Linked DNA regions of Homo sapiens: region 2 is linked to region 1. The links come from fine-mapping of genetic effects on gene expression. A gene starts in region 1. The other region holds a variant in brackets. All regions are shown on one strand. Distances are between the middles of the regions. Region 1 holds the start of LAT (linker for activation of T cells). Region 2 has its middle 20 kb from the start of LAT.

Region 1 (5,000 bases):
CCCTAAAAAAATTTAAAAATAAAAACAAATGCCTGACTCACTGGAGAAGGCACTGTCTCGGATGCCAGGGGTGCTGAGTGCAGGAGCTGATGGGGCAGCAGTGCTAGTGGCCGGGGTGCTGTCAGGAAGCACCACCCTGAAAGGAAGTGAAAAGGGCCGGTGAGCAAGGGGGGACGCACAGCCTCAGCCCTCACCTCCCACCTCCCACCTGGCCACTCACAGGTAGCCTGGGTTGTGATAGTCGTCCTCATCCTCATCCGCATCCTCACAGGCTGGTTCTGGGGGTAACGACACAGGGGTCAGCCTAGTCCAGGACGGACCCCAGACTCCCCACCCAGCCTGGGCACCTCGGATCCCAGACGCACCCTCGTTCTCGTAGCTCGCCACACTGTTGGCTTCAAAGAGAGGGTGAGAGGGAGACTAAGTCAGCTCAGGCCAGGCCTATCTTCTTCCCAGCCCCCGCCGCCTGAACCCTTCCCCACACTTACCACCATCAGAATCCCGCCGGGAAGATGGCGTCCGGTGGGAGCCCCCAAGGGGCTGCGGGGATCTTCTGGGAGTCAAAGGTCAGGGGTCATGCCTGAGGTGGGGCTCAGGGGGCAACAGCAGTTGCAAAAGGGAAAGGGGCCCCCAATCCAAAAAAGTGAAGGGGTAGAGAGTGGAGTTTGGAGGGGGAGGGGCTGAGCTTTGGAGGGGCAGGGGCTGAGCAGCTACTCACGGGATGGGGAGCAGGTCTGGCTGGCTCAGGGGTGGGTAGGAGGTGACAGGTGGGTAGGCAGGTGGCCAGGGGGCAACCGTGTCTGAGGACACAGAACCAAGTTGAAAGAAGGACTCCGGACATCGTCAAGGCCTCAAAGAACAGACTAAGCCCCTGAAAGCCCCACACCCTGGACAGGCCTGGGGGAGCCATCTCCCCTCTCCCAGCTCAGGTCAAGGCCATGTGGGCAGCCCCAAGGTGGCAGGGGAAGTCTGAAGGTTCACGCTCACTCCCACACCAGGGGACCCTCTCCCTGGCACCCAAGGTAGGGGACCCTCCTTGTACTCACGAGGCCGTTTGAACTGGATGCCCCTTGGATACAAACTGGTAAAGGAGACACAGCTTGGGGATGGGGCTGGAAGATGGAGGATGGAAGCCCCAGCCCTGCCCCGCCATGGGGTGTGGAGGGAGACCCAGGGCGGCTGGGGCGGACTCACCTATCTGAGGATGTGCTGTCGTAGGAGCCTGGGAAAGAGAGGGCTGGTGAGGCAGGAACAGGGGGTGCTTAGGGCAGAAGGTGCTGGGATCCAGGGACTCTCAGAGGCGCTGGGATCAGGACGGAGGCAGGGACAGAGCCAGGACAGACACAGGGGCTGGGAGTGGATGAGGATCCCGTCGGTGTCCCTGGGCCCTGGGTACCCCCACCAGTTTCCCACTCACCTGGCAGTCTGTGGCAGTGCACACACAGTGCCATCAACATGGCCAGGATGGGCAGCAGCAGGAGCCCCAGCACGCAGGGGACCAGGATGGCCTCCTCCATCTGCAGGGGAGCTCGGAGCAGGCTGGCTGCACCCCTAGGCCCCTCAAGGGCAGAGTCAAGGCCAGATGAAGATGGGGTGAGGACCGGACCCGGCAGGGAGCAGGGGGCAGGTAGGCACCAGGTGGCAGGGGAGCCCGGGAGGAGGCAGCTGTGCCCTCCCCGGGGCTCCCGGGATGGGTCCCCTCTTTTACTGGGCTGAGTGTGCGTCCAGCTGACTGTGGAAAGTCCCTGCTCCCAGGGTGGTCAGACCAGGGCCTGGGCTGAAGTCGGGGGATCCAGTTACCCCTGCGTCCCAGCCCTACCTGCCCCTCCTCGGCGCCCGCCTCTCCGTGCCCGCCCTCCCGCCCGCCTGCGGCAGGAAGCTGTGGTGAGCGCCGGGCGAGGGCAGGAAATCATCAAGCTCTCAGCCGGCTGCACCCGCCCCCTTCCCACCCCACCCGCCAGTGGGGAGGGGGCAGGAGGAGGCCCGGGAGCCACCCCAGGCACTCACCAAGGGTCTGCTGGCCCCCCCCAAGACGGGGACAGCCACCTGCCAGCTGGCAGCCGTGGCCTCCATATCCAGGACCCGGGGAGGCAGCGAGCAGGGAGGCCCTGACAGTGGGAATTCTGGGGTACAAAGGGCAGTGCCCACCCCCACCTCAGCCAGGCCTGTGAGGCAAGGGACAGGCTCCAGGGAAGCAGGGGCGTGACTCACGGTCACACTCAGCCAGCTCACTCGGAGAAGAGCAGTCCCCCATCTCAGTCGCCCAGCCCAGAAGGGCAGAGACTCACCCAGAGCCCTGAGGAATGACCCACAGTCTTCAGGAGCCCTGGGGTGAAGACGGGGTGCAAGATCAGAGGCCACCCAGAGAAAGACGAGAGCAGGCACCTGGGGTCTGGCTACAAATTTTATTCCGTTACAAATAGCACCGAGCCCTTGGGGCTGCCCCTGTGGAGAGGGATCCCCCTCCTGGACCCCCACCTCCTCCCCTGAGCTACCCAGGTAGTGTCTGGGAGCTGGCACACGGCCCAGGGTCCCTCTGGAAGCTGGGCCAGGCCAAGGGGTTAGGCCCAGGCCCTTCGTGGGGTGGGCCCAGGGCCAGCTGTGGCAGATGTGCAGGTAGGTGAGCGGCAGCCTCTCAGATGAGCACACTGGCCACGGGCACGCGGGTGGAGCGGCCCCGCTGGGGCACCACAATCCGGTCGTCTGTGGACCCTGCTTCGTGCAGCAGGCCTGAGGGGGGAGGGTCAGAGCCAGGGTGAGCTGGATGGACAGACAGACAAAGCCAGAGAAGGGCAAACAGGCAGCGGGAAATGGATGGGGCAGCCACAGAGCCACCCCAGGGGTGGATGCAGACAGACTGGAGGCCAAACAAGGGGAGGGCTGTGGACTGAGCTGCCAGGTGCACAGGAGTGGGCAGACAGATGGACAGACAGACAGGCAGATCAAGAAGCTGGGCCGGGCACAGCTCCTAACTGACCCTGCACGTGCAGCTGTGCCCGCCGGCGGTCGGCCTCAATGAAGATGGCGGTGCCCAGGAAGGCTGCGCCGCCCAGTGCCCCAACAAACGCGCAGAGCATGAGCGAGAACTGCAGAGCCCGGAACTCGGACAAGAAGGAGGGGGGCCAGTTCCGGCGCAGGCGGTCAGAGATCTGCAGGGAGAGGAGACAGGAAAGCCAGGGGAGTCAGCCTCATGGATGAACCAGGGAGGGCACGCCCCTGAGCTCCAGGGAGAAAGACAAGTGGAGCCCAGGAAAGGGAAGGAGGTTTGAGCTAGATGCAGTGGCTCATGCCTATCATCCCAGCTACTCAGGAGGCTGAGGTGGGAGGATCGCTTGAGCCCAGGAGGTCGAGGCTGCAGTGAGCCATGATCGTGCCACTACACTGCAGCCTGGGCAACAGAGTGAGGTCTTGTCTCAGGAAGAAAAGAAAAGAGAAAAGAAAGGAGGAGTTTGGACCACCAGGGTGAGGTCCCTGGCCTTACTGGTAGAAATATTCAAAGACAAAATCTTTCTCCTCCAGTTGACAATGGAAGGTGAGAAGTGCCCAGCACGCAGGACACAGACACTTCACTAGGGCCAGGCCTTCTGATCCAGCCCAGGCTCAGGACACCAGCCACCCCATGCCAGCCAAGAAATAATGCTCACCAGGCCAATGAGGTAGGGGCTCCCAGCATCACCCAGCAGGTGGGACAGCACGATCTGGAAGGCCTCGGCGGTGGAGCGTCGGGTAGGGATCACCACGTACTGTGGAGGAGTTGGTGGAGCTCAGTGGATGCTCTGGGCTCCAGGGGGCAGGAGGCAGGGGGCCAGGAGACCACCAAGGATCCGCCTAGGCCGGGGTCAGAGGTGTGCCTGGGGTTGAGGTCGCAGGGCAGGCCGGGGGTCTGCTACAGATGTTATTTATTGCAGAAGGTAGGTTGAGGCTGGGCTTTGAGGGGTAGAGGCAACACTCCTGACCCCAACTCTGCTCTCATCAGCCTCTGCGCTGACCCTGGAGCTGCCCAGCAACTCACCAGCAGAATGTCGGCCACGATGGCCCAGTTCATGGACAGGAGGGTCTCTCCAATGAAGATGAAAATCTGGGGGAAGAGAGGGTCGGGGGTTCATGACAGTAAGGGCTAACACATGGAAAGTTGACCATGTTCCCAGCTCATCTATTAACTAATTTAATCCTCATCACACCCCAGTGAGACAGGTGCTACTAATATCCCCATTTTACACATGATGAAACTGAGCACAGAGAGGTTAAGTCACTTGTCCAATGTCACACAGCTGGGAAGAGCCAGAGCTGTGATTCAAAACCAGGCATTCCACCTCGAGTGGCCATTACGCTGACTGCTCCTCCACCCTGGACCCACGCCATCCCCCTTGACACCTGCTGGCTACTCACATAAGTGGCCACGATGCTACCACGGGCGCAGGCAAGGGACAGGAAGAGGAAGGGTGCAGAGCCCAGGAGGCCAGTGGCACAGACCAGGGGATCAGCCCGGGGGTTGGAGTGGCGGAGCCGGCGGCTGATCTCCACACCCAGGCCCACACCCAGGACTCCGGTCAGGCAGGTGATGAGTCCAAAGATGAGACTAGGGGTGAGGGAAGGGAATGGGGGGTTTGTCCCTGTGCCTGCCAAGGCCCCTACGCTGTCCATCCTAGCCACCCTCACAACCAAGGTCCCTACAGACACAGCACCCCATGGTTGGCACAGCCCTGAGTGGCAGACATCATCCCATCACTTATTTCCCAGACCAGGAAACGGAGATTCCAGGAGAGCAGGCAGCTTGTGAAGTCAGGAGTCAAACTCCCTGCCTGGGTCTGAGCCACAGATGCTCTTCACTCCAGCCCTGCCACCCGCAGGCCCCCCAGCATAGCCCCATCTGGGCACCTGTCAGAGGAAGAGCAGGAGTCTCCGGGAAGGCAGGGTGGGGTCTCCCCAAGGACCACGCGGGAACGCAGCAGGAATGCCGGAGCCCACAGAGCCAGGGAGCCCGTGACAAAGGCCACAGC
Region 2 (5,518 bases), 21 kb before region 1:
AGGCGTGCTTATTAACTCCTGCAGCTGAACAGTTCATGGGTGGATCCAGCTTCAGGAACAAGTGGATCCAGGACCTCTGTATTAGCGTTCACTAGTGAGACAGGACTAATAGGATAGATAAATATTTGAAGGGGAATTTATTAGGAGAATTGACTCACACGATAACAAGTGAAGTCCCACAATAGGCCATCTGCAAGCTGAGGAGCTGGGAAGCCAGTCCAAGCCCCAAAACCTCAAAATTAGGGAAGCTGACAGTGCAGCCTTCAGTCTGTGGCTGAAGGCCCAAGAACCCCTGGCAAACTACTGGTGTAAGTCCAAGAGTCCAAAAGCTGAAGAACTTGGAGTTCAATATTTGGGGGCAGGAAGCACAGGGGAAAGATGAAGGCCAAAAGACTCAGCAAGTCTGCTCTTTCCAACTTCTTCTGCCTGCTTTTATTTATTTATTTATTTTGAGACAGAGTCTCGCTCTGTCACCCAGGCTGGAGTGCAATGATGCCATCTAGGCTCCGCCTCCCAGGTTCAAGCGATTATCCTGCCTCAGCCTCCCGAGTAGCTGGGATTGCAGGCACCCACCACCACACCTGGCTGATTTTTGTATTTTTAGTAGAGACCAGGTTTCACCATGTTGGCCAGACTGGTCTCGAACTCCTGACCTCAGGTGATCCCACCCGCCTCGGCCTCCCAAAGTGCTGGGATTGCAGGCATGCACCCAGCCCTGCCTACTTTATCCTAGCCACACTGGCAGCTAATTAGATGGTGCCTACCCAGATTGAGGGTGGGTCTGTCTCTCTCAGTCCACTGACTCAAATATTAATCTCCTTTGGCAACACCTTCACAGACACACCCAGGATCAATACTTTGCATCCTTCGATCCAATCAAGGTGACACTCAATATTAACTATCACAAGTCCACCCCTTGTCAATTTGAACCCATATACATCTCCTGAAATCATACATAATTTTCAAATAAAGACAATAATAGGCTGGGCGCAGTGGCTCAGGCCTGTAATCCCAGCACTTTGGGAGGTTGAGGCGGGCAGATCACCTGAGGTCAGGAGTTCTAGACCAGCCTGGCCAACATGGCAAAATCCCGTCTCTACTAAAAATACAAAAATTTCCTGGGCATGGTGGTGTGTGCCTGTAATCCCAGCCACTCGGGAGGCTGAGGCAGGAGAATGGCTTGAACCCAGAAGGCAGAGGTTGCAGTGAGCCGAGATCACACCACTGCACTCCAGCCTGGGGGATAGAACGAGGCTCTGTCTCCAAAAAAACAAAGTTTATAATTACACCTAACATAATACAGCTATCCTTCATACAACCGGAAGCACACCAATCCTTAACCTAAATGCTATTACGTAAAGTTAACAGCACATAAATGCTGATATGAGGTCAATAAATCTTATGTCACATGATAAAGGAAATAAAATGAAGATATTTTCTTAGTGTGTACATGCACAAACATATTCTCAACAAAATAACGAGGAAATACTCATGACAGTTACAGTCCTCGTTTCTGCAACTGGTCATGTGGTCATAGCTGGTATTGATGACTACCTTCTTCTACTACCCATTCTGTATTCCCTTTGTCTTTCACAAGTACCTCAGCAGGTTGCGGTTTTTTTTACCTGGTGGAGTGACCCAAACCTTCATTCCTGAAGGGTCTGGACTATTTGTAGTCCTGCCTGAATTGGGCTATTGTAGTTTCCCACTGAATTTAATCACAGATCATGGTACTATTAAGAGACGCCCTACGGGATCTCCTGTATTCCATGCATACTCTTCCTTACCTCTATTGTGGAGTAGTAGACTGATTTCATCTTGATAGTCCAGTCAATCACCCCAGCCAACATTGTAACTCCCTTCTTCTTAGCATGTTAACTCAAAGGTAGGAGAAGCCTGAAGTGTCCGGGTGGCAATCTTAACTTTCAGTTTAATGGAATCGTTGTGTCTCCTGGTGGCAGTGTTCCTCCCTCTGGAACTAAGACCTCTAGGCCAGCAGAACATAATGTCGTGGGAACAGGAAGCAAAAATGTTGCTCGTGGATCACTAGGGTTGATGGTGAGTGGTGCCACTTCCACTTCCACCCCTGGATTCCTGGACTGGTGAATCCTGGCGATGGGAGAAAGAGTACCATGTATTGGATGCTGATTCAGAGCATATGTGGCCTTCTGGAGAAATTTGCCCCAGCCCTGCAAAGTATTGTCACTTAGTTGGCATTGTAATTGTGACTTCAAAGGCCATTCCACCGTTCTATCAATCCAGCTACTTCAGGATAATGGGGAACATGGTAAGACCAGTGAATTCCATGAGCAGGAGCTAACCACTGGAATTCTTTAGCCATAAAGTGAGTGCCTTGGTCTGAGGCAATGCTGTGTGGAATACCATGATGGTGGATGAGGCATTCCATGAGTCCACAGATGGTAGTCTTAGCAGAAGCATCACATGCAGGACAGGCAAACCAATATCCAGAGTAAGTGTCTATTCCAGTGAAGACAAACCTCTGCCTTTTCCATGATGGAAGAACCCCAATATAATCAACCTGCCACCAAGTAGCTGACTGGTCACCCCAAGGAATGGTGCCGATCAAGGGCTCAGTGTTGGTCTCTGCTGCTGGCAAATTGGGCACTGGGCAGTGGCCGTAGCCAGGTCAGTCTTGGGGAGTGGAAGTCCATGTTGCTGAGCCCATGCGTAACCTCCATCCCTGCCACCATGGTCATTTTGTTTATGCGCCCGTTGGGAGATGACAGGGGTGGCTTGGGAAAGACGCTGAGTGGTATCCACAGAACAAGTCATCCTATTCACCTGATTATTAAAATCCTCCTCTGCTGAGCAGGAGGGTTACAAATATCTTCACAGTTTTTGACCCCTCAGAGAGGTCTATCCACATACCTCTTCCCCAAATTTCTTTATTACCAACTTTCTAATCATGCTTCTTCCAAGTCCCTGACCATCCAGTCAAACCACTGGCTACAGCCCATGAATCAGTATATAATTACACATCTGGCCATTTCTCCTGCCATGAAAAGTGCACAACCACGTGCACTGCTCAAA[G/A]TTCTGCCCACTGGGAAGATTTCCCTTCACCGCTGTCCTCCAAGGATGTCCTCGAAAGGGGCTAGAGTGTTGCAGCTCTCCACTTTCGAGTGGTGCCTGCATATCATGCAGAACCATCTGTGAACCAGGCCCTAGTCTTCTCTTCCTCTGTCAACTGATCATAGGGAACTCATGAGGCCATCAGTGCAGGCTGGGGAAGGGAAGGCAGGGTGGCAAGAGTGGAGACCATGGGCATTTGAGCCACTTCCCCATGTAACTTACTTGTGCCTTCAGGACCTGCTTGAGCCCGATCACGTAAATCCCACTTCCATTTGATGATACAATGCTGCTGTGCACGACCCATTTTATGGCTAGATGAGTCAGAAAACACCCAGTTCATGACAGGCGGTTCAGGCTGCATAGTGAATTGATGACCCATAGTCAAACATTCAGTTTCCACCAGAGCTCTTTAACAGGCCAAGAGCTGTCTCTCAAAAGGAGAGTAGTTATCTGCAGAAGATGGCGGGGCCTTGCTCCAAAATCCTAGAGGCCTCTGCTGTGATTCACCTATGGGGGTCTGCCAAAGGATCCAAACAGCATCCCTATCTGCCACTGACACCTCAAGCACCATTGGATCTGCTGGGTCATATGGCCCAAGTGGCAGAGCAGCTTGCACAGCAACCTGGACCTGTTGCAGAGCCTTCTCCTGTTCTGGACCTCACTCAAAACTGGCAGCCTTTCAAGTCACTTGATAAATGGGCCAGAGTAACGCACCCAGATGAGGAATGTGTTGCCTCCAAAATCCAAATAGGCCAACTAGGCATTGCGCCTCTTTCTTGATTGTAGGAGGGGCCAAATGCAGCAACTTATCCTTCACCTTAGAAGGAATATCTCGACAGGCCCCACACCACTGAACCCCTAGACATTTTACTGAGGTAGAAGGTCCGTGAATTTTAGTCAGATTTATTTTCCATCCCCTGGCACACAAATTCTCACCAATAAATTCAGTGTGTTTGCTACTTCTTGCTCACTAGATCCAATCAATGTAATGTCATCAATATAATGGAGCAGTGTGATATAATGTGGAAGGGAAAAGCGATCAAGGTCTCTCCAAATAAGACTATGACACAAAGCCAGAGAGTTGATAACCCCTGATGTATGACAGTAAAGGTATATTGCTGGCCTTGCCAGCTGAAGGCAAATTGCTTCTGGTGGGCCTTATGGACAGGAATGGGGAAAAAGGCATTTGCCAAATCAATGGCGGCATACCAGGTACCAGGAGATGTGTTAATTTGCTCAAGCAGTGAAACCACATCTGGTACAGCAGCTGCAACTGGAGTGACCACTTGCTTAAGCTTACGATGATCCACTGTCATTCTCCAAGATCCATCTGTCTTCTGCACAGGCCAAATGGAAGAGTTGAACGGGGATGTGGTGGGAATCACCACCCCTGCATCTTTCAAGTCCTTGATGGTGGCACTAATCTCTGCAGTCCCTCCAGGGATGTGATATTGTTTTTGATTTACAGTTTTTCTAGGTAGAGGCAGCTCTAATGGCTTCCCTTTGGCCTTTCTCACCATAATAGTACTTACCTTACCAGTCAGAGAGCCAGTGTGGTGATTCTGCCAGCTGCTAAGTATGGCAAGTATGCTAAGTATAATGTCTGTGCAAATTATGCATTCTGGCACTGGGAAAATGACCACAGGATGAGTCCAGGGATCCCTGGACCCACTGTATTCAGACCTGAGCTAAAACTCCATTAATTACCTGACCTCCATTAGCCCCTACTTTAACTGCAGGTCCACAGTGATGTTCAGGGACCCCTGGAATCAACATCAGCTCAGAGCCAGTGTCCAGTAGTCCCTGAAAGATCAGTTATCCCGGTAAGAGCTCAGAGGTCTCTCTACGGAAGGGTGGGAGAAAGATAAATGGCATAAATTGTCGGTAGTGTAGTGGGGTCCTTCCTCAAGCGGACACGGCCTCCCCTCATTCAAGGGGTTCTGGGTCTGTAAACTGGCTCAAGTCTGGAAATTGACTGAGGGGCCGTGATTCTCTGTTTTTTTTTTTTTTTTTTTTTTTCTGAGACTGAGTCTCGCTCCATAACCCAGGCTGGAGTGCAGTGGTGCAATCTCGGCTCATTGCAACCTCTGCCTCCCGGGGTCAACTGATTCTCATGCCTCAGCCTCCCAAGTAGATGGGATTACAGGCGCCCACCACCATGCCCAGCTAATTTTTGTATTTTTTTGTATAGATGGGGTCTCACTATGTTACCCAGGCTGGTCTCAAACTCCTGGCCTCAGGCGATCCTCCTGTCTCAGCCTCCCAAAGTGCTGTGATTACAGGCGTGAGCCACAGCGCCCAGCCTGATTCTGTTTTTATAATTCAAATTAGTCTTTTGTCGACTCGATCTGGAAGTTTTCTGCTTATACAAATTAAATAAATCTGCATTCTCAGGACCGTGGCTTTCTTCCCGTCTTGATGCTGCCCA

Evidence for each region. PIP is the estimated chance that this variant, and not a neighbour inherited with it, causes the effect.
Region 2: its variant is fine-mapped to the expression of LAT in whole blood (TOPMed, PIP above 0.99).

Annotation. Positions count from the first base shown.
Region 1 is chr16:28,981,935-28,986,934 of GRCh38, reverse strand. It overlaps LAT (linker for activation of T cells), which reads right to left and starts at 1,883. Exons shown (of 12, transcript NM_001014987.2): 1 at 1,418-1,883; 2 at 1,195-1,222; 3 at 1,047-1,081; 4 at 719-800; 5 at 489-553; 6 at 366-395; 7 at 221-278; 8 at 42-136. The coding sequence starts at 1,517. It overlaps SPNS1 (SPNS lysolipid transporter 1, lysophospholipid), which reads right to left. Exons shown (of 12, transcript NM_032038.3): 7 at 4,879-5,000; 8 at 4,390-4,579; 9 at 4,013-4,078; 10 at 3,645-3,743; 11 at 2,978-3,149; 12 at 2,392-2,730. The coding sequence ends at 2,636. RefSeq lists silencers at 1,763-1,822, 1,843-2,122.
Region 2 is chr16:29,002,603-29,008,120 of GRCh38, reverse strand. No RefSeq gene overlaps it. Among named protein-coding and RNA genes, the nearest start is that of LAT, 20 kb to the right of the region's middle. The variant G/A (reference allele first, on the strand shown) is at 3,052.